Regions from separate parts of the Homo sapiens genome. Here all the other regions are linked to region 2. The links come from fine-mapping of genetic effects on gene expression. A gene starts in region 2. Each other region holds a variant in brackets. All regions are shown on one strand. Distances are between the middles of the regions.

The links.
Region 1: its variant is fine-mapped to the expression of DNASE1 in whole blood (INTERVAL, PIP above 0.99).
Region 3: its variant is fine-mapped to the expression of DNASE1 in whole blood (TOPMed, PIP above 0.99).
Region 4: its variant is fine-mapped to the expression of DNASE1 in whole blood (TOPMed, PIP above 0.99).
Region 5: its variant is fine-mapped to the expression of DNASE1 in whole blood (INTERVAL, PIP above 0.99).
Region 6: its variant is fine-mapped to the expression of DNASE1 in whole blood (TOPMed, PIP above 0.99).

The regions. Positions count from the first base shown.
Region 1 is chr16:3,620,339-3,624,424 of GRCh38, reverse strand. It overlaps a transcript of DNASE1 not described here. Among named protein-coding and RNA genes, the nearest start is that of SLX4, 11 kb to the right of the region's middle. The variant C/G (reference allele first, on the strand shown) is at 1,839.
Region 2 is chr16:3,652,398-3,656,483 of GRCh38, reverse strand. DNASE1 (deoxyribonuclease 1) reads right to left here and starts at 1,793. Exons shown (of 9, transcript NM_005223.4): 1 at 1,440-1,793; 2 at 964-1,111; 3 at 547-635; 4 at 299-382. The coding sequence starts at 1,110. It overlaps LOC124903631 (a long non-coding RNA gene), which reads left to right. Exons shown (of 2, transcript XR_007064954.1): 2 at 1-4,086. RefSeq lists enhancers at 561-1,088, 1,089-1,616.
Region 3 is chr16:3,596,425-3,600,510 of GRCh38, reverse strand. It overlaps SLX4 (SLX4 structure-specific endonuclease subunit), which reads left to right. Exons shown (of 15, transcript NM_032444.4): 6 at 2,512-2,714; 7 at 2,816-3,132. Among named protein-coding and RNA genes, the nearest start is that of SLX4, 13 kb to the left of the region's middle. The variant T/G (reference allele first, on the strand shown) is at 1,919.
Region 4 is chr16:3,582,173-3,586,258 of GRCh38, reverse strand. SLX4 (SLX4 structure-specific endonuclease subunit) reads left to right here. Exons shown (of 15, transcript NM_032444.4): 13 at 1,388-1,490; 14 at 2,749-3,162; 15 at 3,566-4,086. The coding sequence ends at 3,917. Among named protein-coding and RNA genes, the nearest start is that of NLRC3, 6.8 kb to the right of the region's middle. The variant A/G (reference allele first, on the strand shown) is at 2,404.
Region 5 is chr16:3,505,126-3,509,211 of GRCh38, reverse strand. It overlaps CLUAP1 (clusterin associated protein 1), which reads right to left. Exons shown (of 12, transcript NM_015041.3): 3 at 2,797-2,881; 4 at 744-923. Among named protein-coding and RNA genes, the nearest start is that of CLUAP1, 6.2 kb to the right of the region's middle. The variant G/C (reference allele first, on the strand shown) is at 1,871.
Region 6 is chr16:3,609,529-3,613,614 of GRCh38, reverse strand. It overlaps SLX4 (SLX4 structure-specific endonuclease subunit), which reads left to right and starts at 2,009. Exons shown (of 15, transcript NM_032444.4): 1 at 2,009-2,055; 2 at 4,049-4,086. It also overlaps a transcript of DNASE1 not described here. RefSeq lists an enhancer at 1,692-1,761 and a silencer at 1,802-2,151. The variant G/A (reference allele first, on the strand shown) is at 1,611.

The DNA.
Region 1 (4,086 bases), 32 kb after region 2:
ACCACCAGGTGCCTTACGCAGCTGGCCAATAACAATTTTAATGTAAAAATAAAAACTCTAGAAGAAAACATGCAGAAAATTACTTTATAATCTCAAAGTAGAGAAGACCTTGCTAACCAAGGACACAAAAGCCACTAACCTTTTTTTTTTTTTTTTGAGACAGAGTCTCACTCTGTCGCCCAGGCTGGAATGCAGTGGCACAGTCTAAGGTCACTGAAACCTCTGCCTCCCGGGTTCAAGCGATTCTCCTGCCTCAGCTTCCTGGGATTACAGGCGTGCACTACCGCGCCCAGCTGATTTTTGTATTTTTAGTAGAGACGGGGTTTCACCATGTTGGCCAGGCTGGTCTTGCACTCAAGTGATCCGCCTGCCTTAGCCTCCCAAAGTGCTGGGATTACAGGTAGTGAGCCACCGCACCTGGCCTCCATACTGTTTTCTATATAGAGGTTATAGTAATTTACAGTCCCATTAACAGCATATAAGCATTTCCTTTTCTGTGCATCCATGCCAACATCTGTTGTTTTTTGACTTTTTAATAATAGCCATTCTGACCAGTGTAAGATGATATCTCACTGTGGTTTTGATTTGCATTTCTCTGATGATTACTGATGTGAGCACTTTTTCATGTTTCTTTGCCGCTTGTATGTCTTCACTTGAGAAGTATGTGTTCTTGTCCTTTGCCTACTTTCTCTCTAATTCCTGGCCTCAAGTGATCCTCCTGCCTCAGCATCCCAAAGTCCTGGGATTACAGGTGTTAGCCACCACGCCCAGCCTTTGCTCACTTACTAATGGGTTTTTTTTTCTTGTTGAGATCCTTGGAGATACTACGTATTAGTCCTTTGCCAGAGGCTTAATTTGCAAATATTTTCTCCCATTCTATAGGTTGTCTATTTACTCTGTTATTTCTTTTGCTGTGTAGAAGTGTTTTCATTTAATTAAGTCCCATTTGCCTATTTTTCTTCTTGTTGCATTTGCTTTTGAGGTCTTAGTCATATATTCTTTGCCTAGGCTAATATCCAGAAGAGTTTTTCCTAGGGTTTCTTCTAAGATCTTTAGAGTTTCAGGTCTTATGTTTAAGTCTTTGAGTTAATTTTTGTATGCGGTGAGAGATAGAGGTACGGTTTCATTTTTCTATATATGGTTAGCCAATTTTCCCAGCGCTATTTATTGAATAGCGTGTCCTTCCCCCACTGCATATTTGTCAACTTTATTGAAGATCAGTTGGTTGCAGGCAAGTGGCATTACTTCTGGGTTCTCTATTCTGTCCCACTGATCTATGGTACAAAAATATGTACAAGTACCATGCTGTTTTAGTTACTGCATGAGTAGCTAGGACCACAGGTGTGCACCACCATGCCCAGCTAATTTTTTTGGGGGGACGTGGGGGGCAGGTACATTAGAGATGGAGTCTTACTATGTTGCCGAGGCTGGTCTCAAGCTCTCAAGAAATCCTTTCCCCTCACTCTCCCAAAAGAGGCCTTGTAGTATAATTTCAAGTCAGGTAATGTGATGCCTCCAGCTTTGAAGAACCTTTGTTCATTACAAGGCATCATTAAGAGAACGTAAAGGTGAGTCAAACACTGGAAGAAGGTATGTGCATACAAGAAAAGTTATTTTACTACAAAAAACTGTAAAGCTCTACATGGAAAAAATTTTATTAAAAGTCAAAGCCAAGCCAGGTACAGTAGCACATAGGTGTAGTCCCAGCTACGTGGGAGGCTGAAGTAGGGGGATCACTTGAGCCCAGGAGTTCAAGTCTAGCCTGGGCAACATGGTGAGACTCCACCTCAAAAAAGAAAAAAAATTTTTTTAAGTCAAATGATAAAAACTGGTAAAAA[C/G]TATCTGTAACATTGTAACACTATATCCATTTCCACAATATAGAGTTCTTACAAATCAATAGGAAAAAGATTAATCACATAATCTTACAAACCAATAGGAAAAAGATTAATCACACAATCTAAAAGAATGCAAAGCCCACAAACATAAGGTCATAGGTAAACAAGTAGCTTTTAATCACGTGAAGAAAATACTCGTTTCCTCAATGAAAGAAATGTAAAGTAAAGCTACAAGACACCAATTTTTAACCGCTGAAATAGTAAAAGACAAAATGTTTCATGATATATTCTGTGAGTGTGTGGATATGAGTAAAAAGACATTCATTGTTAACGGAATGGAAACTGATTCAGCCTCCGTTTTTTTTTTTTTTTTTTTCAGTCTTGCTCTGTCACCTAGGCTGGAGTACAGTGGTGTGATCTTGGCTCACTGCAACCTCCACCTTCCGGGTTCAAGCGATTCTCCTGCCTCAGTCTCTGGAGTAGCTGGAATTACAGGGGTGCGCCACCATGCCCAGCTAATGTTATATTTTTAGTAAAGACGGGGTTTCAACATGTTGGCCACGCTGTTCTTAAACTCCTGACCTCAAGTGATCCACCTGCCTCGGTCTCCCAAAGTACTGGCATTACAGGCATGAGCCACCACGCCTGGCCAATTTGGCTTCTTTAGAAGGTAACTGGGTAACACCCCAAAACACTCTGATTTACCCATATCCTTTGACCCAGCAATTCCACTTATGTTACAGGAATATCCTACAAATATATGTGCAAATCTGCATAAAAGTATATACAAGTATGTTCAATGCACCATTAGCCATTGTAGAAGGAAATGAAAGCCATCTAATGTCCCTTGATAGGTGATACAATGAAGTATGAATGTATCCAAATGATGACATATAATGCAACTGCTAAACAAAATGATAGATTTATATGTAATAAGGAAAAATCTCCAAGACAGTTCATTAAGTTGCAAAAACGAGGTTCAGAACAATGGGTAAAATGTGCTACCGTTTATTTACATTGGGGAAAAGCAGGGATATATATTTATATTTGTATGTGCACAGAATTATCTGGAATATTTCAAGAAGCCTCTGATGAGGGAGTTTGGAGGTCAGGGGGCCAGAAGTAGGAGGGAATTTTTGTACCCTTCTGAAGCTCCTGGACAAAAAAAATTAACAATGTACAGGTATTCTTTTCTAAAACAGGTAAACCAGGCAAGAGCAATGGCTCATACCTGTAAACCCAGCACTTTTGGAGGCAGGAGGATCACCAGAGGCTAAGAGTTTAAGATCAGCCTGGGCAAGATAGCAAGACCCCATATCTACAAAAATTTTTAAAAGTCAGTTGGGTGTGGTGGCACACGCTTGTACTCTTGGCTACTCGGGATACTGAGGCAGGAGGATTGTCTGAGCCCAAGAGTTCGAGTCTATGCTCGTGCCACTGCATTCTAGCATGGATGACAGCAAAACCCTGTCTCTAAAAAAAATATAAAATAGGCCGGGCACAGTGGCTCACACCTGTAATCCCAGCACTTTGGGAGGCTGAGGCGGGTGGATCACGAGGTCAGGAGTTCAAGATCAGCCTGGTCAATATGGTGAAACCCCGTCTCTACTAAAAATACAAAAATTAACCAGGTGTGGTGCAGGCGCCTGTAATCCCAGCTACTCCGGAGGCTGAGGCAGGAGAATCGCTTGAACCTGGGGAGCGGAGGTTGCAGTGAGCCGGCATTGCGCCACTGCACTCCAGCCTGGGTGACAGAGTAAGACTCTGTCTCAAAATAAATAATAAACTTTTTAAAAAAAAAAATCAGGCAAACCAAACAAAACACACATACCCTTTAGCCTAGAAATCCTAGATTTAGGACTCCTTCCAAAAGAAATAAAAACACACACATACAGGTTATAAGTACAAAGACATTTATTGCATAATCTATAATGATAAAAACTATAAATATATCTTTATCAACAGGGGAATGTTTGATTAAATATGGAATATAATATGGCTTCCTATCTACTGACTTAGAGAAATGCTCATGATGCAATATGCATAGTATAATTACTTTTTTTTTTTTTTTGAGACAGGGTCTCACTCTGTCACCCAGGCTAAAGTAGAGTGGCATGATCACAGCTCACTGCAGCCTCGAAGTTACAGTGAGCTATGATCAGGCCACGCTGCACTCCAGCCTGGGTGACACACTGAGTACTCTGTCTCTAAATAAATAAATAAAAGGTTTCTTTACTAATTATACGAAGCC
Region 2 (4,086 bases):
CGGGGGAGCCAGGCACCTGCTCAACCCATTGGTCCGGGACCCAGGCGACAGGAGGGCGGGGGAGCCAGGCACCTGCTCAACCCATTGGTCCGGGACCCAGGCGACAGGAGGGCGGGGGAGCCAGGCACCTGCTCAACCCATTGGTCCGGGACCTTGGGGTGTTTTCACTCCACCCTGGACCCTGCTCTGAAGCCTCAGGTTCTTGCCATAGGACAAACTAATAGGACAAACTACTTCCCTGCTCTGTTGGGGCCCTCCCAGGTGAGGGAGGGGCTTCCTGGCTTTCTAGACCACCCACCTGTACACGAACAGGTAGCGCTCCTTATAGCTGTTCCGTCCCAGTGGCTCACTGACCACGTAGTGATAGGTGTCTGGTGCATCCCTGGATTGAAGAAACAAAAGGTCCCAGTGGCGGGGGCCATAGGGGACCCCTCTGGCTGCCGATAGCGAGGCTGTGCCCAGGTCCCCACCCTTGGGGCCCAAGTGAAGTGAGGCTGTGCCGTGGACGAGATGTCACCTTCCTATGACCCTGCCACTGTCACCCACTGATTGAGGTTGTCCAGCAGCTTCCCCACGGCAGTCAGGTGGCTGTCTCTGACCTCCTGGACCAGGGCGATGTCATAGCGGCTCAGGATCTGGGGGCAGGGCCACAGTGGTGCTGAGCAGGGCTGGTGCCACCCAGGGACCCTACAGCGCCACAAAGGGAGCCACAGCTGATGCTCGTGGCATTGCTCGGTTTAACCGCAGCCTCATGTTTCTGCCTGGGCTCCTGCTGCCAGCCAGGGACAGCACAGCAGGGATGAGGACCTTGGTCCACAGCCAAGAGCCTGTTCCACCGTGCTGGGAGCAGTGGTGCTCAGTACCCCACACCCGACACCCTGTGGCTCCATAGGGCTGGCCCTGCCCACCAGCCCTAGACTCCAGAGCTCCTCTGCTTTTGGGGGGAGGCTGCCCTGGCCTCACCTGCACAATGTAGCTGACGAGGGTGGCATTGGACATCTTGGTCTCCCCAAATGTCTGGATGTTGAAGGCTGCGATCTTCAGGGACACGGCCCCCTGCAGTAGGGCCGCCAGTGCCAGCAGCGCCCCCAGCAGCTTCATGCCCCTCATCCTGGGAGAGCACAGGGCACAGAGACATAACAGAAGTGAGACGTCATCCCTGCCACAGCACTCCAGCCTTCTGGAGCCCAGCTGGCAGGGGCTGGTGGAGCTCAAGGTCAGGGGGACGCAGGCGGGGGAAACCCTTTCCTACAACGTCCAGAAAGCCAAACAGCTGGCACCACGTAGAGGACCCCGAGTCACTCCTCCATCCACCAGAAAACCCGCCCGGGAGGGACGCTGGAGCCTCCGCCTCACTCGCTGCTGGAGGATGAGACTCTAAGCCTCCCTCCCTGCTCCAAACCGGCCAGTCACCCAGAGGCACTCCACCTGGTGCTCACCTGAGATGATGGTGATGTCCTCAGAGATGACGAGAATGCTGTCAAGAATCTGGAATATCCTTTGATGACAATTTTCTCCTTTTGCTGCTTAAAGAAAAAAAAGTAGTCTATGAAGAAAGGTCTCTGAAGAAGCACTTCAAGGCCCTGGCAGTGCTGCTGGGCTCCGGATCCTGCACAGGCAGTGCGTGTCTGGGAGTTTTAAAAGTTCAGGCAGCTGTGACCTTCCCTGGGGCAAATGTGAGCCGTCACCTGAGAGTGCAGAAAACAATGGCTCTGTGTGGCTTTCCGCATAGGTGGGTTGCTAGCACGTGTTTCTTTCTGTAAGCACAGGTTTCTTGCTGCTGTAAAAACTGCACCTGATAATCACGTTTGCACTTAGTTTTAAAATGTCTGATAACAAGGCCAAAGGTTCCTATCCCGTGTCCCTTGCACGTGTGGTGGCCCCCATCTTCCAGGATAGGGCAGGGATGGGCCAGGTATGTGCGGGAGGGTGGGGCTGGGCTCCAGTCTCCCTGTCTCTTGTCTGGGGGCCCCAAGGTCACTTTGGACAAAGAGGCCAAAGCCACATCCAAAGTTGCAAATGGAGCCCCCTGGTGGCTGACAGCCATGACTGCTCTGTGGCCCAGGACACGCCTGCCTTCCTGATTCATCGCCATCAGGTGCAGGCAACTCTGCAGGAGGCTGGGGAGCTCGGAACAAGCAGTGGTGGGGGCCTGCAGCACCAGCGCCGTGGGGCCAGGACAGGTGGGGCCTGCAAAGCCCACCCCAATTGCCAGCCAAGCAGTGGGGAGCCTTCTTGAGGTAGACAATAGGCTGTGTGTTTAGGCCCAGGGGATCCCGAGTGACCAGGTCACAAGGGCAGGGCAGCAGCTAAAGGCCAGGCCTCAGGTCCAGTAATTTCTTGGTTCTTTTGTTTTGGGTTTTTATTGTTTTTGAGACAGGGTCTCACACTGTGTTGCCAAGGCTGGAGTGCAGTGGCACAATCATGGCTCATTATAGCCTCAACCGCCAGGGCTCAGATAATCCTCCCTCCTCAGCCTCCTGAGTAGCTAAGACTATGGGTACGGCACCATGCCTGGCTAATTTTTAAATTTTTTTGGTAGAGATGGGGTCTTGCTCTTTTGTCCAGACTGGTCTTGAACTCCTGGCTTCAGGCAATCCTCCGGCGTAGCCAGGACCACAGGTGCATGCTACCATGCTCAGTTTTTTTTTTTTTTTTTTTTTTTTTTTTTTTTTTTGAGGCGGAATCTTGCTCTGCTGCCCAGCCTGGAGTGCAGTAATACTATCTCGGCTCACTGCAACCTCTGCTTCCTGGGTTCAAGCAATTCTTCTGCCTCAGCCTCCCGAGTAGCTGGGATTACAGGCACGCACCACCACACCCGGCTAATTTTTGTATTTTTAGTAGAGACAGGGTTTCACCATGTTGGTCACACTGGTCTCAAACTCGTGACCTTGTGATCCGCCTGCCTCGGCCTCCCAAAGTGCTGGGATTACAGGCGTGAGCCATCGCACCCAGCCTATTTTTTAAGTTTCTCACAGACACAAGGTCTCCAAGTCCTGAGCCCAAGCAATCTTCCCGCAAATGCTGGGATTACAAGTGTGAGCCACCGCACCCCGCCACTCATTTCTTGGAATCTTTGACTTTCCATTCGTATTCATTTCCTGAGACTGGTGAAACTACCACAAGTTTGGTTGCTTAAAATAACAGAAATGGATCCTCTCAAAATTCCGGAGACTGGACGTCTGAAGTCAGGGAGTCAGTAGGACCTTGCGCCTCCTGGAGGCTCCGGGCGGTTGGGGGATGCTCCTTGCCCTCCAGTTTCTGCAGGCTGCCAGCAATCCTTGGCTTTCCTTAGTTGTGGCTGCATCACCCCAGTCTCTGCCTCTTCTTCTTAAGATCTGTGCACCTGCATTTGGGGTCCTCCCAGAGAGCAGGGAGGATGTCCTTATCTCAACAGCCTTTACTCACATCTGCAAGTCCTTTTTTGCTACAAAAATCAACATTCAGAGGTTCCAGGGCTAGGGCACAGCTATCTTTTGAGCCACCCCTGGGTCTTGCCCACTTGGAAGGGGCTGTGCTGGCCCTCCAAGGACAGCCCTGCACGTAGCATCTGTGGTCCCCCTGGGGGAGGAGGGCCTGGAAGGCTTGGCAGAAGTCCAGGCGGGATTCAGGTATGAGAACTGCAGGAAATGAATACAAATGGGGTCTGCAGGAGGCCTCAACGGCAAGAGTCAGCAGGGGCCAAGGTCGAAAGTCAGGAAAGTGCTCGGTCTGGCCAGCTGGCCATGAAGCAGAAGGCAGGCCCAGTGGGGACTAGAAACAGGAAGGTAAACCACCCTCCACAAGACTGGCACCCCATTCCATAAAGACACGCCAACAGACGCCTCTGGCTGGCAGCACTGGTGCACTCATCTGTCCCTCCTATTGAGACGGCGTCTACCAGATGGAAACACCACCACTCCTCAGGCTGCCAGAGGCCCCATTGCAGGCTTTTCCAAAGGTTTCAGCAATGGTTCTTCCCTGTTTTTAATCTCTAAGTCTAGGACAGCCTCCAGCACGTCAAAACCCAGCCCCCAAGCAAGGCCACCGGAGTATTCGGTGTAGGGACTAGTCCTCTGCCTTTGGTGTTTGCCTTTCCTGGACACA
Region 3 (4,086 bases), 56 kb after region 2:
AGAAGGGAGTGAGGAGGGGACAGAATCTGCATTCTGGAAGGCTCTGGACCTGCCCCTTTAGGGGGGTGCAGAAATGATCTTCGCACTGTTTTCCTCAAGGTCCTTCCTGAGTTTCCAATCCCATGATCCCACAGTCGGTACCCTCTAGTGCAGGGGTCCCCAACCCCCCAGCCTCGGACCAGTACCGGTCTGTGGCCTGTTAGGAACCTGGCCACACAGCAGGAGGTGAGCAGCGGGCAGGCAAGCTTTACTGCCTGAGCTCCGCCTCCTGTCAGATCAGTGGTGGCATTAGACTCACAGGAACACAAACCCTGTTGTGAGCCGCACATGCATGGAATCTAGGTTGAGCTCTCCTTATGAAAATCTAAAGCCTGATGATCTGAGGTGGAATGCTTTGATGCTGAAACCATTCCCCTACTCCTGTCCCATGGAAAAATTGTCTTCCATGAAACCAGTTCCTGGTACCAAAAAGGTTGGGGACTACTGCTTTACCACATCTAAGAATTTGGTAGTCACTTTACTCCATCCATTTCGTTGTTGGACAGCATGGTTTCCACCTCAGCACAGTCCAGTTTTCACACTGTTAACATAAGATTACTCAGCACAGTTCACAGATTTGGTGATTGGCCAGGCACGGTAGCTTACACCTGTAATCTCAATACTTTGGGAGGCCAGGGCGGAAGGATCACTTGAGCCCAGGAGTTCAAGGCCAGCCTGGACTACATAGCAAGACCCATCACTACAAAAAATTAAAAAATTAGCTGGCTGTGGTGCTGCACACCTGTAGTCCCAGCTACGTGGGAGGCTGAGGCGGAAGGATCACTTGAGCCTGGGAGGCCAAGGTTGCAATGAGCTGTGATTGCACCACTGCACTCCAGCCTGGGCGACAGGGCAAGAACCTGTCTTCATAAAACAAACAAAAACAACAACAAAGTTGGTGCAACAGAAGTGTAGGACCCTATTTTTTAAAAATCTTGCATGAATTAATGCTTAAAAGTTAAAATGAGTTGCCTTGCTCACAGCCAGGAAACAAGTCCTCAGCATGCAAACCACAGCCACACAAGTGCCAGAGGGCTGGCCCTGCTCCACGCTGCCCTGCTGCTGAGGACGCTAGAGCTGACACCAGGTTCATAGTGAACAAAGGCATCTTGGACCTTTGACTCCTCCAGGTTTGAGACCGCTGTCAGGAGCAAAGGGAAGGCCAAAGGCGATAGCTGTTTGTCCCGCCCCCTGCTTTGCACACAGGTCATGGGCAGCTGAGCTGGCTCGGGGCTGAGATGGCAGAGGGCAGAGGGGATTCTCTTGGTGGAGGAGCGCATCTGTATTTAGCATGGCAGGGGTGCAAGCCTTGAGGCCTTAGAATAGACGTCATCTAAGCCATTGTTTCTTTCTTGGCAGGACCACGCCAAAAGCACCTGCTCAGATAAAGTATGTCTGCCTTTAGAATACCTCCAAGTACTGAAACTAGATGTATGTGGATCCGTTTAGAAGGTTGTCAGAGTAGAAAACTACAGGAGCTGGATGCCCTCATGGGGTCTTTGAACCCCTCCCTCCCCAAAGGCCAAGCCTGTGGTCATCAGAACGCATGCCCCGGCCAGAGTGCCTCATATTCTTTCCCCACAGCCCAAACCTGGCCTGCTGGGGAGTGAGGAGGGAACACAGTCTGTGTTCCCTTCACAGAAGCAGGGTCCCAGGCTGCCCAGGCAGCTCCTTTCCCTCTGGGAGGCTGTGATTATCCACGTTCCTGGGAAGGTGAACTTGAGCCATCCCTGGCACCCTGGAGAGCATGAGCTTTTGCAAAAGCCAGAGGCATGACTGCATTGCAGGGAAGGTGGGCCCGGTTTGTGCTAAGTTCCTTTGTCACCTCTGCCCTCCTCCTTCTTGCCCAGCTTATTGGGAGTCACCCAGGCAGCCTAGG[T/G]TCTCTCCAGCCGGAAACTCCTGTTCATTTCCTCCAAACCAAACGAGCTGCTGCCCGTTGAAAGTGCAGAGTCCCGGGGCGGCTGGTATAATGTTGACCATCGGCAGCCTAAGCTGGGAAGCCCTTCCTTCTGGCCATGGACAGAGGCACTGCCGTGGAGCCCTTGCAGGAGGGAAGGGATCCTTTTCTGCCGGTGTGGCCAGGACCGTGTAAGGAGCATCGGAAGTATTGATGGGTGAAGGTGGTGGGAGTCCAGGGAGCCTGCTCAGAGCCATCGATTGTTGACTCCATTGGATGGGCTTGGCCACATGAGGATGTGCAGGTACCACAGATGGCTCCGTACATCTGCCATGAGCCTGCTGGACAGCAGCACGTGAAGGAACCCAGACCCTCCTGTGCCTGGGCCATGTTGAACTTCTGGCCTGGAATTGAATGAGTTCACACAAGGCAGTGGAAGTGGGGGACGCATCTGCCTGGCAGGTCCACATCCGTCACTTTTCTCTCAGGCCCAGCCCTCTCCAGACCAGTGTGACCAACCTGAGAAGCGTGCACTCCTCTAGCCCCAGTAACTTTTCTCTTTGGCTGTTTTCTAGCTTCAGTGATCACAGTAGAGGTCTGAAACGGAGAGGACCCACCAGCAAGAAGGAGCCACGGAAGAGGCGGAAGGTGGACGAGGCACCGTCCGAGGACCTGCTGGTGGCCATGGCTCTGTCCCGGTCGGAGATGGAGCCGGGTGCGGCTGTACCAGCGCTCAGGCTGGAAAGTGCCTTTTCTGAGAGGATAAGACCAGAAGCAGGTTTGTGTGATCAGAAGAGTGACCCTGGGAGAGGCCATCAGCAGGTCCCGGGTGAGTGGACCGACTCCACCGTTGATGGTGTCGCTTTTGTTTCTCTCTAGAGAATAAAAGTCGCAAGAAGAAACCCCCGGTATCCCCCCCATTGTTGTTAGTCCAGGACTCTGAAACCACAGGCCGACAGATAGAGGACCGTGTGGCCCTGCTCCTCTCTGAGGAAGTGGAATTGTCTAGCACGCCACCACTTCCTGCCAGCAGGATTTTAAAGGAAGGGTGGGAAAGAGCGGGCCAGTGTCCTCCTCCACCTGAACGCAAGCAGAGCTTTCTGTGGGAGGGCAGCGCACTGACTGGGGCCTGGGCCATGGAGGACTTCTACACGGCCAGGCTGGTCCCTCCTCTCGTGCCCCAGCGGCCTGCCCAGGTGAGTCCCTCCCCTCAGGCACATGGATAGGCTTTTGGGGGAGGTTGGCAATCCCAGAACTGCAACACTGGGTACCCACAGCCAGGTGATGGAAAGTCCAGGAAGGAAAGGCAGAGGCGGGAGGAGGCCAGAGGGGCACTTGGTGGCTGCAGCTTTCTTCTCTGTCCAGCAACTACATGGTACTCTGGGTAGGATCAGGGAGGACCCTTGGTGTCCACCAGAGTGTGTTCCTGGAGTTTGTTGAAAATGCAGAGTCCCGGCCGGGCGCAGTGGCTCACGCCCGTAATCCCTGCACTTTGGGAGGCTGAGGTGGGCGGATCACGAGGTCAGGAGTTCGAGACCAGCCTGGCTAATATGGTGAAACCCCATCTCTACTAAGAATACAAAAATTAGCCAGGCATGGTGGCACACACCTGTAATCCCAGTTACTTGGGAGACTGAGGCAGAAGAATCGCTTGAACCGGGGAGGCGGAAGTTGCAGTGAGCCGAGACCGTGCCATTACACTCCAGCCTGGGCAACAAAGTGAGACTCTGTCTTGAAAAAAAAAAAAAAAACAGAGTCCCAGGGCAACTGGCAAAATGCCTCAGATGGAGCCCGGAAACTGGCATTCGGAGCACACACTCCAGACAGTCGTGCGGCAGGTAGCCCTACAGTCAGTACGCAGCTGCCTGAGGCAGCTTGGAGGACTTCAGGAGGGCGGCAGGCCTGGGCCCCCCTGGCCTCTGACAAGCCTTTGTGCAAACAGATGCCACAGGCCTGGCCTTGGCCGTGACAGAGGAGGAGCATGTTGACATGAGTGCTGGGGAAAAGCATCCCAGGACTGCTCCAGGCTGTGGCTGGAGCCCCGGGGACAGTCTGTCCCCACAGCCCACATCCTGCTCTGTAGTTTTAGGTCCAGCCGTGCATACCACATGTGATGGCTTCTGCAGTGTGTGCGTCAATGACAGTGACCA
Region 4 (4,086 bases), 70 kb after region 2:
ATCTACTAGTGGACACACGGGTTGTTTTTAATTTGTGGTTATTAATAATGCCACTTAGGAATATTGATGTGCAAGTTTTCGTGTAGACATGTTTTCCTTCTTCTTGGTTCTGTACTTAGGAGTGGAATTGCTGGGTCATATGGCAACTGTGTTTAGCATTGTGAGGAACTGCGAGACTGTTTTCCAAAGTGACTGCACCATTTTAAATCTCCACCAACACTTGTTATTCTGTTTTTGTTGTTGTTGTTATTGTTTTGAGACAAGGTCTTGCTCTGTCGCCCAGGCTGGAGTGCAGTGGCGTGTTCATGGCTTGCTGCAGCCTCAACCTTCCTGGCTCAGGTGATCCTCCCACCTCAGCCTCCCGAGTAGCTGGAACCAGCCACAAACAGCTGCCCACATTGGTGACTTGGGCCACCACACCCTGCTAACTTTTTTTGTATTTTTTTTTTTTTTTTTTTGTAGAGATAGGGTTCTGCCATTTTGCCCAAACCCTCTGTGTTTTTTGTTATGGCCATCCTAGTGGGCGTGCAGTGGTATCTCACTGTGGTTTTGACTTGCATTTCCCTGATGACTAATGATGTCGGGCACCTTTTCATGTGCTTATTGGCCATTTGTAGATCTTCTCTGGAGAAATGTCTGTTCACATCCTTTGCCCTTTTTTTTTTTTTTTTTTGAGACAGAGTCTTGCTCTGTCGCCCAGGCTGGAGTGCAGTGGTGTGATCTCGGCTCACTGCAAGCTCCGCCTCCCAGGTTCACGCCATTCTCCTGCCTCAGCCTCCCAAGCAGCTGGGACTACAGGCGCCCGCCACCACGCCCAGCTAATTTTTTGTATTTTTAATAGAGACGGGGTTTCACCGTGTTAGCCAGGATGGTCTCGATCTCCTGACCTCGTGATCCGCCCACCTCGGCCTCCCAAAGTGCTGGGATTACAGGCGTGAGCCACCGCGCCCGGCCCCTTTGCCCATTTTTTAACTGGGTTTTTTTAAATTGATGAATTATTTTTAAAAAGCAAAACTGATGTCTAAGCCTGTTTGAAGAGTATCAGTGTGGCCCATTGTCTCAAGTTGTCACTGTGGGTCAGATATTTTTAAGTTTACATGCATAAGTTTTAGTCACGTGCCGGGCTGTTGGGTTCAGTGGCCCCAGGAGCTCTGTTCACCCGGCACCCGTGTTATACAAGGTGTGGTCCTCAGTGCGTGTCACCGATGCTATCATTGGGAAGCCCCTGCTCCAGACAGGGAAGGGGTGACCACTGTTGCTTTCATGGAGCAAAACGATGCTTGGGTTATCTTCAAGTGCATTATTCCTCTTGGTCACGCTACTGGGATCAGATGTGGGAAATCCGTGTCCCTCATGCTAAAACGTGTGCTTCTTTTGTTTTACCCAGAAGGTGCTAATCGGAAGAAGAACTTGCCCCCCAAAGTGCCCATAACGCCGATGCCACAGTATTCCATTATGGAGACGCCGGTGCTGAAGAAGGAACTGGATAGGTTGGCGGTCTTCAAAGCTTGTTGCCCACAGTGGTCTTTTCCCTCCCATAAGTAACTGGGTTTCACACACCTGGGGGCGGAAGGGCCCCCCGTGTGGTCTCTGGGTCTGGTGGATGCAGCTGGCCTGGGCTTGGGAAGAAAGGTCTGCAGTCAGCTCCTTAGGGAGCATGTGTGACTGCTGGGTGCCGGGGTGAGCCTCCCAGTTCTCTCTGCGTACCATTCCCCAGGGAGGCAACACACAGGATTCGTGCATGTCACCCCTGGGCAGCAGGTCCCCATATTCCATGTAGATGGAAATGGCCCCCTAGCCAGAGCAGTCTGAGTGAGGAGGTCTGATTTTTTTTTTGAAAGACAGAGTCTTGCTCTGTCGCCCAGGCTGGAGTGCAGTGGCGCAGTCCCGGCTCACTGCAACCTCCACCTCCCGGGTTCAAGCGATTCTCCTGACTCAGCCTCCCGAGTAGCTGGGACTACAGGCACACGCCACCACACCAGGCTAATTGTTGTATTTTTAGTAGAGACGGGGTTTCACCATGTTGGCCAGGCTGGTCTCGAACTCCTGACCACGTGATCCACCCGCCTCGGCTTCCCAAAATGCTGGGATTACAGGCGTGAGCCACTGTGCCCGGCGGAGGCCTGATTTTTTTTAAAAGAACATTTAACTCTCACATCCACATGACACTGCTCTTCCACTCGGGCACCCGGGGAAGCTGCTGCTGCCACCATCCCTCAGAACTGGGAGCAGCATATCTTTTGTTTATTTTTTATTTTTGGAGACAGGATCTCACTCTGTTGCCCAGGCTGGAGTAGAGTGATGTGATCTTGGCTCACTGTAGCCTCAGCCTCCCGGGCTTAAGCGATCCTACCTCATCCTCCCTAGTAGCTGGGACTACAGGTGACACCACCACGCCTGGCT[A/G]ATTTTTGTATTTTTTGTAGAGGCGGGGTCTTGCTATGTTGCCCAGGCTGGCCTTGAACTCCTGAGCTCAAACTGTCCTCCTGCCTCAGCCTCCCAAAGTGCTGGGATTGTAGGCGTGAGCCATTGTGCCTGGCTGGCAATGTTTCTTTTGGAATATTCAGAGTAAGCTTAGTTGGCGCCTAGAATAGACACTAACCTCTGATGCTCACAGAAGTCAGGCATCTATGGTTTGTCACACAAGCCATTCGCTGAATGCATTGGGTATCACTCTTTGCTAAGATAGGGAACGTGGAGTGTGGACCAGCTGTGTGGGTGGGTCCTGAGATCCACCTGTTCCTCCGTCAGGTTTGGAGTCCGCCCTCTGCCTAAACGCCAGATGGTTCTGAAGCTGAAGGAGATATTCCAGTACACTCACCAGACCCTGGACTCAGACTCCGAGGACGAGAGCCAGTCCTCACAGCCGCTGTTGCAGGCGCCTCACTGCCAGACCCTCGCCTCCCAGACCTACAAGCCTTCAAGGGCAGGGGTCCATGCCCAGCAGGAGGCCACCACAGGACCTGGGGCCCATAGGCCCAAGGGACCTGCTAAGACCAAGGGCCCCCGACATCAAAGGAAGCATCATGAAAGCATCACACCCCCAAGCAGGTCGCCCACCAAGGAGGCACCTCCAGGCCTCAATGATGACGCCCAGATCCCAGCCTCTCAAGAATCCGTGGCCACCTCTGTGGATGGCAGTGACAGCTCCTTGAGCTCACAGAGGTAACCGGATGGATGCGATGGGGTCAGTGGCCTCATGTATCCTCTGGCCCGTGGGCGTGAGGGTTGGCACGAGTGAGACCTAATGGCCAATCTTCAAAAACCCCCGTCACCTTCTGGGTTTGACCTGTGGGAAAACCAGGTGGGTTTAGGGGGCTGGTTCCCTGACCCCAGCCCTGCGCAGGCCTCCTGGTTCCTGCCCCACATGCTAGACATTTCTGGCTGGGGCAGGATCCCGCTGGCGTAGCCTGCAGGGATCTCTCAGGCCCGTCCTGCCTTGCTGGGGATCGTGCCACAGGCCAGGCTCCATGGGACCCGTAGACACCTTCCTTCCTTTAAAGAGGCTCATGGTCTCAGGGGCTGGAGAGAAAGGGGTTGCACAACGTCCTGGTCTGGCTCTTTTCAGTTCTTCCTCCTGTGAGTTTGGAGCGGCATTTGAGTCTGCAGGTGAAGAGGAGGGCGAGGGGGAGGTCAGTGCCTCGCAGGCAGCCGTGCAGGCGGCGGACACAGACGAGGCGCTGAGGTGCTACATCCGCTCCAAGCCGGCCCTGTACCAGAAGGTGCTGCTGTACCAGCCCTTTGAGCTGCGGGAGCTGCAGGCAGAGCTGAGGCAGAACGGCCTCCGTGTGTCCTCGCGCAGGCTGTTGGACTTCCTGGACACCCACTGTATCACCTTCACCACTGCCGCCACCCGCAGGGAGAAGCTCCAGGGCAGGAGGCGGCAGCCTCGGGGCAAGAAGAAGGTGGAGCGGAACTGATGGGGCCATCCCGACCCCACCCCAACCTGCCATCAGCAGCCCCCACCCCCGCCATTTGCAGGGAGGACCTGGGACACCCAGCGTGGGTCAGGCCTCCACAGGCATTTCTGGGCCTGGGGACCACATCAGCTCTGCGCTGTGATGATGACCACAGCCCAATCCAGGGCTT
Region 5 (4,086 bases), 150 kb after region 2:
AGTGCCATGAACATGGCTTGACTGCCTGGGCTCAAGAGATCTTCCCACCTCAGCCTCCTGGGCAGCTGGGACCACAGGTGTGTACCACCACGCCTAGCTAATTTTTTTCTTTTTTTTGGTAAAAATGGCGTCTCACTATGTTGCCCAGGTTGGTCTGGAACTCTTGGCATCAAAGGATCCTCCCACCTCGGCCTCCCAAAGTGTTTGGCTTACAGGAGTGAGTCACTGCACCCAGCCCAAAACAAATTATCATCCTGAGACACCCTGACGCCACCCGCCACCCGCACAACTCACTCTTTCCCTCCCTTGGATCTCTGCTGGAAACACCATCCAATCCATGAGGCCTTCCTGATCACCCGATTTAAGATCACTCTGGGCAGCATCCATCCCCATCCCAGCTTATTATTCTCCACAGCCTGCACTGCATCTGGCCTTCCACACCTCTTATTGTTCACAGTCTGACTCCCCTAACTGAAGAGAATAAACACACGATTTTTGTCCTTTTTGTTCACAACTGTATCCTCAGCGCTTGAATGCTACCTGACAAATACTAAGCTTTTAATAAATAGTTGAATTAGTGGATTGTGACTTTGACTTTATCCAAATGCTGATGAGCACAAAACTGACAAACTGCCCTCAGCTGAGGAGGAAGAAAAGCAGCGGAGCTGTAGCAGACTCCTTCCACTTCAGAGCTCAAGAAATCAACGCTCCATCGCCCACTACAAGGCTTTTGTTGTCCTTACCTTTGAGCCAAGATCAAACTTGAACTTGTTGACATCTTCCTCTACTATTTCAGAGCCCTCCATCCCCTTGGTCTTCATAGCATTATAAAGGACAGATGTGATCTTCAGCAGCTCTTTTACCGCATACCCATCTGCTTGATAAAGCTTCTTAGTGTTGAGTTTTATATGTGCCTTGGTGGCCTATTTTTAGACCAAAAAAAAAAAAAGTTGAAGGCCCTTTCCATGTAATGTCTAAACTAAATCCCATGTAGGTGAGTTGAAAATGCCTCTGCTGACAACTGGGATATAACCTAATAAAAGCAAAGCATTCAAGTGACTCAAACATTGTGAGTGGTTGTATAAACTGGGACAATCTTGATGGAGAGCAATTTGGTAAAAGACATCAAAATTACAAATGCACATATCTTTTGACCCAGCAATCCCAAATCTAAGAACTTATTCTAGGGACACACTCAAACACAAACAAAATGAGATGTACAGGTTATTTGTTACAGCACTGTTCCAAAGAGCAAAGCTTCAGACAACCTAAAAGCCTACCTATATAAATTACATAAATTATGGCAAATCCATGCAAGCAATACCACTCAGGCGTAAACAGAATGAGGAAATTCTATATGTATTTGGAAAGTTCTCTAAAATATACCATTAAGTAAAGCAAGATGCTAAACATCTTGTAGTGTACAGTAAGTACATCAAGTAGAATACAGTACCATTTGTGTAAAACAAAGGAAAAATATATATTTTTATTTGCACACACACACACACACACACACACACACACACACACAAACTCTGGAAGAGATTTAAAATAGTGGTTATTTGGAATGGAACTTGGCCCAGGGCAGATAGGGTAAAAAGTCATTTTACTCCATTTTGTTTCATAATGTTTTTAATTTTTTTTTTTTTTTTGAGATAGGGTCTCACTCTGTCACCTGGGCTGGAGTGCAATGACATGATCCCGGCTCACTGCAGCCTCAACCTCCCGGGCTCAAGCAATCCTCCCACCTCAGCCTCCCAAGCACCTGAGACTACAGGCACGTGTCACCAGGCCCATCTAATTTTTTTTAAATTTATTTTTTGTAGAGACAGGATCTCACTACATCACCCAGGCTGTTCTCAAACTCCTG[G/C]ACTCAAGCTATCCTCCCACCTTGGCCTGCCAAAGTGCTAGGATTACAGGCATGAACAACCACGCCCAGCCTACTTTCAATTTGTGAGCCATGAAATATGTTATCTATTCAAAAATAAATAAATAAAATTCTTTTTTTTTTTTTTTAAGACAGAGTCTTGCTCTGTTGCCCAGGCTGGAGTGCAGTGGCGTGATCTCGGCTCACTGCAAGCTCTGCCTCCCAGGTTCACACCATTCTCCTGCCTCAGCCTCCCGAGTAGCTGGGACTACAGGTGCCCGCCACCACATCCAACTAATTTTTTGTATTTTTACTGGAGACGGGGTTTCACCCTGCTAGCCAGGATAGTCTCAATCTCCTGACCTCGTGATCCGCCCACCTCGGCCTTCCAAAGTGCTGGGATTACAGGCGTGAGCCACCACACCTGGCATAAACAAAATTCTTAACAAATAATGAATTAAAAGACAAACAAAAAGAACTTCGCTGGTGAAATGGTGCCACAGAAACCCAGCAATGGAATGGTTTTAGAAAGCAAACTCAGGCCAGGCGCGTGGTGGCTCACATCTGTAATTCCAGCACTTTGGGAGGCCAAGGAGGGTGGATTACTTGAGGTCGGGAGTTTGAGACCAGCCTAGCCAACATGGTGAAACCCAGTCTCTACTAAAAATGCAAAAATTAGCCAGGTGTGGTGGCGTGTGCCTCTAATCCTAGCTACTCGGGAGGCTGAGACAGGAGAACCCCCGAGGAGACGGAGGTTGCAGTGAGCCAAGATTGTGCCACTGCACTCCGGCCTGGGCGAGAGAATGAGACTCCATCTCAAAAAAAAAGAAAGAAAAACTCAATTACACAGTTTGAAAGTCGCCCTAACAAGGAGTCATCCTTTCTAGTTTATTTAATTTTACAACTCCACAAAATAAGTGTCCACTAACCATGAACTGGGCAATTGCCTTAATGAAGAAAACTCGGTCCTGTTCAGTATCCACGTCAGGCGGGATGTCAGTCTGGGGCTCATATCTATCAAGAGAGGTAAGAGGAGAGAGCACGGGTTAACCAAGGAGAAAGTCTACTAAAGAGAATGTGGGCAACTGAGAGGACAGCGGGTCTGGAACACAACGCTCTCCAAGTCCCCAAGTGGGAGAGTGAGATCAAGGCAAACTTCAAAAGCAAAACCAAATACCAAGGGAGCAAATCCCCACCTAAGAAAAACAGATTTCAAAAACTAAATGTGGATCTCAGCTTATAAAATTAAATCTCTCTCAGATCTCACCATGTCATGAAGCTAATCAGAACTGCTACCCTGGCTGACAGCCCTTGACTCAGAGATCAGTGCTAGGGCCGATTAGTCAGCTCTAAGCAGCAGCAGAGTTGGTGAAGTTATTTTCTTCAAGGTATTGAAACCAGGGGTCAGCAGACTGCAGCCTCCGACCTGTACAGCCTGCAAGCTAAGAACTGTTTTTACATTTTAACAAAAAGAAGAGACGCAATAGAGATCTTATGAATTTTATATTTAGCAAAAGGTAAAATATTATCTGGTCCTTAACAGAAAAAGCTGCCAACCCTGAATCATATAACATATTCAATTTTTTCACAGAAAAAGAAATCTCCATTATTTCTAATCCAGTGTACTGATCAGAATGTGCAAAAAGGCCCCTGTCACTCTGCCATGAGGGGCTGAAGAGCAGCCTGGCCCAGCATCCTACTGAGGAATAGTCGTCTCCTTTCACGACTTCCTGGTATATTTCCCACTCCCACAGCATTCTTTAAACTCCACTGATTTTTTTTTTTTTTTTTTTTTTTTGAGACGGAGTCTCGCTCTTTCACCCAGGCTGAACTGCAGTGGCGCTATCTCGGCTCACTGCACACTTCGGCTCACTGCATGCTCCGCCTCCCGGGTTCACTCCATTCTCCTGCCTCAGCCTCCTGAGTAGCTGGGACCACAGGCGCCCGCCACCACGCCTGGCTAATTTTTTGTGTTTTTAATAGAGATGGGGTTTCACCGTGTTAGCCAGGATGGTCTTGATCTCCTGACCTCGTGATCCACCCGCCTCGGCCTCCCAAAGTGCTGGGATTACAGGCGTGAGCCACTGCGCCCGGCCTGATTTTGTTTTTTGAGACACAGTCTCAATCTGCCCGGGCTGGTGTGCAATAGCATGATCAGTGGCACTGCAGCCTCAAACTCCTGGGATCAAGTGATCCTCCTGCCTCAGCCTCCTGAGTCG
Region 6 (4,086 bases), 43 kb after region 2:
ATCCAGTTGGAAACCATATTACAAACTAACTTAGATTTCCAAGCCAGAGAGCAAGTAAACACCTCCTAAATCCTTCATCAAGGAAAACCTCTTGGAAGGTTTTGAAGCTCAACATTCAGAATCAAATGTAGTCTTACCCAGTAATTCCACTCCTAGAACACAAAAACTTGTGTTATGAACACGAATGTTCATAGCAGCATTATTTCTAACAGCCAAAAAGTAAAAACATCCATATGCCCATCACCTGATACATGGATAAACAAAACATGGTCCATCCAAACACGTGATTATGCAGCCATGAAAAGGCATGCAGTACTGATTCATCTACATGGATGAAATCTTGAAAACATGCTTAATAAAAGCCCAGCAGAAAAAGCCAAGTATCACATGATCCCATTTACATAAAATGTACTGAATACGCAAAACCACAGAGACAGAAAGCCGATAAGTGATTGCCAGGGGATGGGGTCGGGGGAATTGCGGAGTGACTACGAATGGGTACGGCAGGTTCGATTTGGGGTTTTAAAACGTTCTGGAATTAGCGACGATGGCTGCAAATCCTGTGAACGTACTGGAAACCACTGAATGTACACTTCTAGTGTGCATTTTATGATACTGTATCTTTTAAAAAACATATTGTCTGCCCTGCAAACTGATTCCTTTACACCTCTCCTGTGTTCATTATTTCAGTGACTGGAGGCACACTACTCTCAGATGTTAAGGCCAGAAACCGGCAAATCGTTAACAACTGCGTCTTGACTATGCTCCATATTTCTCCATTCTTTTCGCTCCACCTCCTAATTCGGGCCGCTCTCACTTTTCATCTAGATTATGTAATAGCCTCCTAATGGGTGTCCTTGCCTCATCTGTTCTCACTGTAATTAGGCCTTTAAAAACAAAATCTTACGCCGGGCGTGGTGGCTCACGCCTGTAATCTCAGCGCTTTGGGAGGCCGAGGCGGGAGGATCTCTTGCGGCCAGGGCTCGAGACCAGCCTGGGCAACATAGTGAGACTCCCCCCCCCGCCCCCACCGCCCGTCTCTACTTAAAAAAAAAAAAAAAAAAAGCCGTGAGCGGTGGCTCACGCCTGTAATCCCACCACTTTGGGAGGCCGAGGCGGGCGGATCACCTGAGGTCAGGAGTTGGAGACCAGCCTGGGCAACAGAGTGAAACCTAGTCTCTACTAAAAACACAAAAATTAGCTGGGCGTGGTGACTGGCGCCTGTAATCCCAGCTACTTGGGAAGGTGAGGCACAAGAACCGCTCGAACCCGGGAGACAGAGGTTGCAGTGAGCCGAGATCGCGCCACTGCACCCCAGCCTGGGCAACAAGAGCAAAACCCCGTCTCAAAAAACAAACAACAAAAAACCTTCAATGGCTCCCGACGACCCCAAGTTGAAGCTCAAACCCTTAATACGATGTGTAAAGTCCCTCAAATACCAAGCCATGGCAAACCTCTGCTACCTTTCCCCCAGGCCCTGGCTGGCTTCACCCTAGCCCTGCGGAAGAGCTCGGGCATCCCCTCCAGGCACCTGAAGCGCGGCAGAATCCCCTCTTCACGTAGCTAACCCTCCCCGACCTCCAGGCCTCGACTCTCACGCCACCCCACCT[G/A]AGAGGAAGCTTCTCGGGCCCCCAGGCCAGATTTGGTGCCTCTCCCGGTCCCCCTCACACCGTCCACTCTCCGCTCCACAGGCAGGTATGCCCAGAGGGGGCCGCCGTTGTATCCGCGAACATTTCCTGAGCCAGCTGGGGAGGAACCAGACTTTATCTCACAGCTGCCACAGTGCCTTAAACTCGCCCTAACTCTTTCTCAAAAACTAACAGACTCCACCTGAAGCAAGCGCCGCTTCCGCCTCGCCCCGCCTCCTGCCGACCGGAAGCGCTGGCCGCCGCGGGCCCGCGCCCGGCGCCGCAGAGGAAGACCGGAAGCGAGGCTGCCGCACCACCGCGCGCGCCCGCTCTGCGCCTGCGCGCAGGCAATGCTCCGCGGGGGCGCGGGCGGCGCATGCGCAGGCGCGCGAGTCTCCGTTAAGAAGGTGCCGCGGCGGCGCCGGAGGTAGGAGGAGCCGGGCTGTGGGGCTGGGAGTCGGCACCCGGGAGGCGGAGGTCCTGTCATTTCGGGCCGTTCTCTCTTTCCTAAGGGAGAAGAGCCTTTCTCGCCCGTCTCCCTCGCTGGCTCCGTGGCCTCGGCAGGCCCGCAGCCCCGACGGAGAGGCAGGAGCCGCACTCGGGTGGAGAGGGGCCGGGGCCCGCCTGGAGGGAGGAGGGTGGCGGATCCGGATCCCCACGGTGGTCTCCGTCCGGGCCAGTCCGGGGATCGGGGTTCTCCGTCTGACTTTAGAGCCGTTAGAGTCTTTGGCAGCCCTTTTCCCAGACGGGGAACCCCTCAGCCCCTTTCCGTAGGTCGCCGGGTTGGGGGAAGCGGGAGGGTCCGCCCCTTACCGATCCATTCATTCATCCCTCGCCTGCTGTGAGCCGTGGGCTGCGGTAGGTACGAAGCAAGGAGGCACAAGTCCCCTTCCCTCTGGAAACCTGCAGGCTTGCAGGATCCGTTATGTCATTCAGTAAATCTTGACTGGGCACCTATAGGAGGAGATAGACTGTTGTGAGGTTCATATCAACAGAGATGCGGAGATCAACACAGTTGTGGAGGTGGAATTTGTTCCAGCCGCTCCCCGCATCCAACAGGATAAAATTCACTTTGCCTAGCCTGACCTTCCAGGCCCTTGTGAGCCAATCCTTTCCTCTCCCCGCAGCGTTTTCTCCTACACCTTTCTCTCTACTCCCATTATACCGAACTCTTTGCAATTCATGAATTCAACAAGTAGTTGTGGAGCACTTATTTCAAGTCAGGCACCAGATCAGCCAAAGAGGTTGCAAAGTAATAGATGGATCTCTACCCTCCTGAAGTGTTGAGCTTAATGGGGGACAGATAATAAGCCGATGAATAAAAACACAAGAGCGGATAGTTTCGAACCACACTTCCTGGGTTTGATCCCAGCCCTGCCACTGTGAAAGCTGTTCCTGAACTGGCTTTAGGCCAGTTCCTCATTCTGCTTGCGCGTGTTTCCTTGCCGTAAAGACAGGATGACAAGAGATTCCACCATATAGGCTTCTTGTAAGGATTAAACGAGTTTGACTTGGAAAGCAATTGGAACAGTGCTTGGCACACAGTAAGCATTCGATAGATATTACCTGTTTCATATGATGATAACCTATGACAGATGCCATTGTGAAAACAGTGGGCGATGATAGGGATTAACGGGGATGGAGACGGTCCATAAAGGATTAGAGGACACTTCTCTAAGGGGAAGACACAGAAGAGAATGCGCCAGCCATACAAAGTAGATTCTAGGTAGGAGTATTTTCAGCTCTGGAAAACAAAATGATTAATTAGATTCCTTGGACAGTGGAGATTGCATTATTGTATTTGAAAGGAATAACTTTCTGCCATTGGGTCATTCAGTTTTGATTTTTGAACCCCACTTAGCTGTGTGCCAAAGTAAACAACCATGCTCACGAGGCCCAGCCTTTGCACACAGGCGACATTCCAGTCATCCAGGTTTGGAGAGCCTTGCTGGGTTGAGAAGATAAGTAAAAGTGACCTTTTCTCTCCTGAGTGTTCATGAGAATATAATGTCTCTTTCTGTCTCTTATGTTGCAGTATTTACAGAAAGAGCCTCTTTAACAGCCAGGGGTCTTAGATCAGTGTAGGAGATAGTTTTCCTAGATTTGGGGATCATCCTGTTTCTGTGGTGACTGCCTTTTATGGGGTTTGCTCCCTAAATTTCAGTTAAGAAAACACTCTCCCAAGATGCACATATTTTAATACCTGTGGAAGAACAACATGCTTTGACAGGTTTCTAGGTCCTTTTGTTGTGATGTCTGATAGGACGGTTAGACCATGTTAACCAGGCTGGACTGAGTATTTGACAGTATTGTTACTCCGAAGACTTTTCCCTCACCCCACATGCCCTTGTCCCTCCCTGGAAGAACTGGCATAAAATGACAATGTCTGATTACACTTACATGCTTTTGGTTTTCCACAGATGTGTAATTAAGTGAACCATATATGTTTCATCATCAT